Linked DNA regions of Homo sapiens. The protein of the gene in region 1 purifies or fractionates together with the protein of each later gene. This does not show direct contact. Each region holds a gene or a part of one and is shown in the gene's direction. Other genes may lie near its edges.

Region 1 (4,094 bases):
CAACTCCTATCAAATCCTAGGCCCCCTGCAACGCCTGGCAGCTCTCTCTCTTGAACACATCAAGCTCTTCCATCCTCTGGATTTTTGCAAGGCCTATTTCTGCAGTCTCTCCCCTGTCCTCACCTCCCCCTTCCTTACCTCTTAAGTGATTCATCCACCTTTCTGAGAGCTTTCCCAAAGGCCACCTTACAATAAATTATTTCTTCCTCTGTTGGATCCCTACTTTGTTGTTACACATCTATTCATTGAGCGCTCTGTGCCCGACACTGTGCTGGTTTCCTAAAACTCATCCAAGCCTCTTGCTTTCTGCCTGGAGTGAAGAGTAGTTCACGTTCTGATTCTCAGTGCCTCTAGGGCTGGAGCGGAATCTTAATGTCTGTGTCCTCGTCTCTCACCACCGCGTTTTGCACTTTGTCGAAAGGTGTCAGATGGTGAGATGGCTTCTAGACTGGGCTCTGCCCACTAATTAGCTGTGTGGCCTTGGGAGAATCATCCGGCCTCTCTTGCTGCCCTTCTTTCCGATGAAATAATGCTGACGATGATATTTCAGGGTTGTCCAGGGGTCAATGAGGCGGGATAGAGGGAAGCATCGTGAAATCTGGGAGCCCCAGGCCAGCGAAAAATGTGGAAGGGCCGTACCCGCACTCTCCTAGCACTGGGTGTGAGGCAGCGTCGTTTCCCCTTCGCGCTCTTCGAATGTCAAGTGCACCAGCTTCCAATCCCTCCTCTGGGCGGGCCCGGTCTGGCTAATCTCAGCTGCAGATTCCAGTACAAACTCAGGACTCTCCCCCGCCCAGCCGCCCCTACACAAGGACTCGCCGAACACACCTTGAATCCCGCGCCAGAGCGCAGCCCGGAACTGCAGCTCGCGGCGCGGGCCCAGGTCGGGGGTCGCGCGTCTCCAGTCGGTGACTCAAGGCCGCTCGGTCCGGGGGTGGGTGTGGGTCGGCAGGACCGACCAGGGCCGCGCGGGGGCAGCTGCCGGGCGTTCGGTCACCTAGCGGTGGGAGCCGAGGCTGGCTTTGGCCAGTCGCCATTCCGCCGCGGGCGTCTGTCTCGCCGGGTTCCCGGGCGCGGGAGGAAGGCCCGCGCCGCTTCCCACTCGGCGCGCTTCTCTCCCAGTGCGCAGTGGCCTGGTGGGTCAGCCGGCGGCGGCTGGAGCGCGGGGCCGGCCCTGCGCACGAATGAATGGGCGCCCGGGGGACGCGCGCGCTCGGGGCTGAAGGGCATTAGGACCGTGAGGATCGCTCCGCGATCCTGTCTCTCCCTATCACCCCCCCGCCCCCCCACCTCTCTCCTTTTTCTGCTCTGCAGGACTGAGCAGCTAGGCGCGAGCGAAAACAAACAGCTGGGGCTGCGAGCGCCCCCGCCCCGGCCCCGAGAGCACGCCGGCCCAGTCCCCCACCTGGGGCGCCCGTCTGCCCACCATGAGGAAGATCCGCGCCAATGCCATCGCCATCCTGACCGTAGCCTGGATCCTGGGCACTTTCTACTACTTATGGCAGGACAACCGAGCCCACGCAGCATCCTCCGGCGGCCGGGGCGCGCAGAGGGCAGGCAGGAGGTCGGAGCAGCTCCGCGAGGACCGCACCATCCCGCTCATTGTGAGTACGCCCCGAGCGTCGGCCGGCCGGCTAGGGAGCCGCGGCGCGCGTCCAGACCCTGCGCGGCGGCCGAGGGCGCGGGGCCCGGCCAGGGCTGAGTGCCCGCTGCGCCGGGCCGGCTTTGTATATGTTGGAGCATTCCTGCCCGTTGTTATGGCAACCTCTGCCGGGCGGCGGGGCTGGGGCGCACCGACTAAGGGAGGGTGACAGAGGGTGGGGGCTGGGAGAAAGTGCTGCAAGTTTGGTGGGCCCGGCGTGCGCGCGCGGCTGGGAACGTGGCGGCTCTCCCGGCTCTGCGCTGCCGGGGCCGGGAGTCTGGGGGCTGCGGGAGCCTCGTGTGCCCCGGAAGGCTGCCGGGCCCAGCGCGCGGCGAGCGGGCGGTGGGAACCACTCGCAGCCGAGCGCGTAGGTGGCAGTGCGCAGCCCCTCTCCAGCCTTCTGGGGGCAGAGGACATCGGGTGGGGGCGTGGGTAGGGGAAGGCTCTCTAGGCGCTGCGCCTGGCTTCGAACCCCCTTCTGAGCCGGGTCAACTTGAACCCGCTTCTTCGGCGCGGACACCCAGCTTCCCCGGAGTTCTCTGGGTTGAGGAGAGGTCTCGCACTGTACGCGTCTCTCACTCCCAACCTTAGGGTCCGCCACCACGGGTAGGTGGGCAGTGTCAGCGCCCGAACTTGGCGATACCCTTGCATGAAGTCAGCCTCGCGACATCTAAGCGGGCAGGGAAACAAAGGCAGTGTGGCACAGCGGGGGCGGCGGCGGGGCTGCGGGGGCCCTTGGCGCTCTGGGGACCCGGGCGGGGGCGTGCGGAGCCGCAGCCGCCCTGCAGGGGGCGATCCTGTCGCCGTCTCCGTCCGAGCCCCAGGTGACAGAGCTGTGCGTGGCCAGGCAGGGGCACCTGTTGAGGCGGGAGGCTTTGGCACCCGCCGAGAGTGCGCTCGAGCGGGCGCATTCTTCCAGACGGGGGCGGTTGGTGGACGAGAGCCTCGGACGACCCTCGGGAACTACCAGGGCGGGGCAGCCTGGCCGGATGAGGACCAGGAAGAGGAGAGCCGAGTGGGGCGGGGGTAAAGGAGTGAGGAAGCGTGGCGATTCCGACAAGGAAAGATCTGGGCCTGGGGGTGGAGGGGTGAGGAGATCCGCGGGGGAGGTGCAAGGTCCGGAGGGCTGAGGCTTGTGTGGAGCCGAATCCGAGAAACGCATCCAGACGCGGATCTGAACCCCAGGAATATCGGGAAGTTCATTGGAGAGTGTCCCCTCATATTCCCATCCTGCCCCAGATTCCGAGTCCCCTGCAAAGGAAACATTATTTCAGGGCTTTGCCTGAGGAGACCTGGGGCGGGGGGGTGAGGTTGTGGGTTTTGTCCTAGATACCAGTCTGGGTGAACTCTCTGGGGGCAAGCCTGATTAGGTGCACTGTTCCCTTCTGGGCTGTTCTCCCAGGACACTGTTTCCAAAGCACTTGTCGCCCTTTGGACAGAAAACTGATAAGGAAAAGCCTCCTGTGCTGAGGCCCCAGAGTGTTGTGATCTGAGCAGAGGGACAGGTTGGAGCTGGAACTGTCCAAACCAGCAGTGGCCTCCAGACCCCAGGGAGCTTCCTCTCCAGGAGCCCAGGCTGCCACATTCATACTCAGTGGCAGGAAGAGCCCTAGTCTCAGGCAAGGCAGGCTGGCCAGATGCTCTGTCCCTCTTTCTGGTGAGGCGATGAGAAGAGGGTCTGAGTTGGAAGGGGCGGAGAAAGAGGCTGGGCAGGGAGGAGAGGAGGGAAGAGAGCACAGGAGACTGCTGCTCAGAGCCTCTGCTTTGGAACCCGGAACCTGAACCCTGACCTGGCCCATGCACCTCTCTCCTGCTCCTTCCAGAGTCCTGTAAGATGCACTGGGAGGGCCGCTCACATTTCTCAAGAGTCCCAGAATGGTGTAGGGGACCTGCTGGAAGGATTCAGCACTCATTTTGAGGGGTGGGAATTGGAGGTCATGAGAATCACCAGTAAACATCCTCTTGTCCCTGCTTATTCCCACAGGGTTTGACTTGCTGCAGGTAAGAAAAGGTCTCAGAGCGGGAAGCTAAGTTTAAAGTATGAAGGAGTATCAGGGAGATACCTGGGAGCTGGGAAGTGAAGGTGCAGGAAGAAAGGGAGAATGGAAGTCCCTGGGAGTGGCAGAGCCTTCTGTGGCCACTTAGGGGCACAGCCAGCTCCCTCTTTGTTCTTAAGCTTTAGATGCCTGTTCCACCAGCACTGACCCCCCCGTCAGGCACCACTTTTGACAACTGCCTTGCATTGTTTCATTGTATTCCTCTCTTCCAGTTATTTCTTCCATGTGATTTGCAGCTGAATGTAAGTGATGCATGCGGGAACTGTGCTGGAAGCTCCTTGCATCCCCACATTGATGCACACAGCAAGATTTCTTTTTTTCTTTTTTTTTTTTTTGAGATGGAGTCTCACTCTGTCACCCAGGCTGGAGTGAGGTGGCATGATCTCGGCTCACTG
Region 2 (3,500 bases), on another chromosome or scaffold:
CAGTTCTTTATGGAATGAGAGAGAAAATTTGTTATTTTCTAACTCCCAACATGTGTAGTATGTTTCTTGAGGGATACTATTCTATTTAATACTTTGGCATCAGACATTCTGAATCTGATGCAGTAGCTAATGGATCACGCTAATTCCAAGATTGAATCAAATATGCTGATGTCATTTTTTTTGATTAGGCCATTTTGTTTTCCATTTGACAAAAGTCATGAATAAAATGCCTTCCTAAATAAAACTGGGTGATTTGAATACCCATGGCAATACTTTTTGTTTTTTTCATTCCTTAATAAATTTCGTCACTTAAATTATTTTAGGGAAAAATCAGGAAAAATATTTTGGCACAAAATTGAAGAATGTGTACTCAAAAGTAAATAGAAGTTGGGTGTTGCTTTAGTTTCATGATATTTTCTTTATTATAGCCACATCATTGTTTAGTTGTCACTCATTTTTTTCTACTATGAGGCAAAGTTATCTATTTCCAGAGTGAATGTGATTGAAGAGTGTCTAAAATAGTAGAAAATATTTTATTATTTTTATACTTAAAGTCAATGATTATAATGAGTTGGCTATATATGTGGTTCTACCTCTTAGAAAATAATCATTGCCCACTTATAAATTATAATGGCATTAAAAAGAAATCTGAATTTCACACATCTATAGTTCCATACTATAAAGTTAAGGTTAAATCAACTGTAACTTACAAGGAGTAGATAGCTGTCATTTAGAGTAAGCAAATATAACAATTTCATACAAATTAGTATAAACAAAAAAAAAAGTTGGCAAGTTTAACAGGTTTAGACAAGTTTATTTCTAAACACATATTTACATAATGCAGTCTCTATATCACTATATTATACATATGATCTGAGTATAGTGGAATATTTACTCTCTCCATCAAAATTGCTAATCCAGTATACATTTATCCTCTGTTTTCTCTGAAAGAAGCATTGTGCTAGACACTATGGTGATACAAAAATAATAATAGAATTCCTGCCCCTAAGCACTGTCTGTCTGGTAGGGAAGACAGATAGATCAAACTATCTATATTTCAAGATATATAATAAAGAATAAAATGTATAATTTAATAAAAATTCAGAAAAATGGAAGCTCATGGGAAGACATTATTAATTCAAATGGGAGAGCCATTTTTTTGCATGTGAATTGACCATGAAGAAATTTAATCCCAGCACTTTGGGAGGCCGAGGCGGGTGGATCGCCTGAGGTCAGGAGTTCAAGACCAGCCTGGCCAACATGGTGAAACCCCATCTCTACTAAAAATACAAAAATTAGCTGATGTTGGTGGTGCACACCTGAAATCCCAGCTACTCGGGAGGCTGATGCAGGAGAATTGCTTGAACCCGGGAGGCAGAGGTTGCAGTGAGCCAAGATTGCACCATTGCACTCCAGCCTGGCAACAGAGCCAAGAGTCTATCTAAACAAAAAAACAAAAAGACAAAAATAAATAAAAAAGAAATAAAGAAATTTAAATATGTGGAAAAATATAGAAAATATAGAGAATGCAGTCTGACAACAGTTGACACATGGAAAAATACATAAAATATTCAAAAGAAAGAAAGCAGTCCAGTAGAGGAATAAATTTTTGGAAAAGTGCTGTAACATGGGAGATAGGAGGAAGCCAGATATTGCACGGTTTTAATTTTGCTGTGCTAAAATTTATTCAGGTAGTTTTATTATTATGCTGATTTTTAGAGCTCCAGCAACTAGCTGTGAGCCCAGGTCAACATAGACTCTCTAGAAGTGTTTTTTAGGTGAATGAGTTGCATGAGATTGAGGTGCTGTTGACCACTCCAGTGAAACTTTCTTTCCAGACAGACACTAATAAACATTCCAGTGTGGAATTCTGGAATGATTTCAATTTAAAGTCATCCGCAGAAAGCTGCTGGTTTCAGTCACAGAAACATATGAGTTTACTGCAGGAAAGAGCAGAAACCAGCAAAGGAGGTTTAGAAATGATTTATAGGAAGAAGAAAATCCCCTGAGTGTAGTTACAGAAGCCACAAAGATGTTGAAAGTTTATGGACATGTGAAACCCCATCTCTACTAACAATACAAAATTAACTGGGCTTGGTGATAGGCGCGTGTAATCCCAGCTACTTGGGAGGCTGAGGCAGGAGAATTCCTTGAAACTGAGAGGCAGAGGTTGCAGTGAGCCGAGATCGTGCCACTGCACTACAGCCTGGATGACAAAGCAAGACTTCATCTCAAAAAAAAAAAAAAGTTTATAGAGTAATTGAGTAATATTTGTATGAGAATTTTATGATTAAACAATATTGAATAATGTGTGTATCATAATTCCCCTTCTTAAAAATTCTCAATACACTTCAGCTTTGAGAAAGTCCAAGCTAAATGACCAGGTTAGCTTATTGTTGCCAAATGAATTTGGCCATGAGAATATTCTCCAATACCTAATACAGTATCAACATCTTCCTGTAAATATCTGAAGTATCTGAGAAACAGTGTTTTGGGAAGTGCTGGCGTAGTCAATTAAGTGCGATACCACAGATGATTTTTGGTTTGCAAGCTAACCAGCATCTGGCATTATCATTTTCATTCTCTCAATGGGACCTTCTGATATTATCTTGGCTTAGCCTGAAATCATCATTTAGGGTACCAAAGTCAAGAAACTTGATTACATTTTTTCATTAAATTCTTTTTTTTTTTTTTTTTTTTTTTTTTGAGACAGAGTTTTGCTCTTGTTGCCCAAGTTGTGGTGCAATGGCGCAATCTCGGCTCACTGCAACCTCCGCTTCCCTGGTTCAAATGATTCTCCTGCCTCAGCCTCCTGAGTAGCTGGGATTACAGGCATGCACCACCACGCCCAGCTAATTTTTGCATTTTTAGTAGAGATGGGGTTTCACCCTGTTAGCCAGGATGGTCTTGATCTGCTGACCTCATGACCCGCCCGCCTTGGTCTCCCAAAGTGCTGGGATTACAGGCATGAGCCGCCATGCCCGGCCTTCATCAAATTCTTTAACATGAGTGACAATAAAGGCTACACAGTGCATTAGCAAATGACATAGAGGATTCCAACATTGCAGTAGAGTTGCTGTGGTGTATAGTGGTTATGTGTAGTCACATACAAAAAGGAATGTCCAATATTCAGCATCTATTATGAACAATTTTCCACAAATTATGTGCTACATTATTACTGCTTTTTAAAAGATGCTTGAATGATCCACAGACTAGTTATTTGCATCACAGTTCCCTCTTCCAAAATACGGATAATATCAAATTAAGAATATATGTGTGTAATATATATATGTTCTAATTTATATATCTATTCATATATATTTTTATTTATAGCCCTTTGAATTTCCCATGATATGTTTAAGGGCTTTAAAAACTAGTAGAATTATCGCTGACTTAAGATAAACAGGAGCCAATATCTGAATTTCTTCACTTTCAGTTTTTCTAAGGCCAAATCATTAGACTATAGGTCTTTCAGTTATCTTCTAATGGATTTCATTGTT

What was found. Proteins that work in one complex are often made in the same cells at the same time.
Region 2: the proteins of GALNT16 (region 1) and TRDN purify together in Homo sapiens (co-immunoprecipitation; one large-scale study listed by IntAct). This does not show direct contact.

Annotation. Positions count from the first base shown.
Region 1 is NC_000014.9:69,258,864-69,262,957, forward strand, and holds the start of GALNT16 (polypeptide N-acetylgalactosaminyltransferase 16), read left to right. Parts: upstream 1-1,294; 5' UTR 1,295-1,427; coding exon 1,428-1,604; exon of another isoform or gene 1,605-1,664; intron 1,665-4,094. UniProt on the Homo sapiens protein: Catalyzes the initial reaction in O-linked oligosaccharide biosynthesis, the transfer of an N-acetyl-D-galactosamine residue to a serine or threonine residue on the protein receptor.
Region 2 is NC_000006.12:123,504,451-123,507,950, reverse strand, and holds part of TRDN (triadin), read left to right. Parts: intron 1-3,500. UniProt on the Homo sapiens protein: Contributes to the regulation of lumenal Ca2+ release via the sarcoplasmic reticulum calcium release channels RYR1 and RYR2, a key step in triggering skeletal and heart muscle contraction.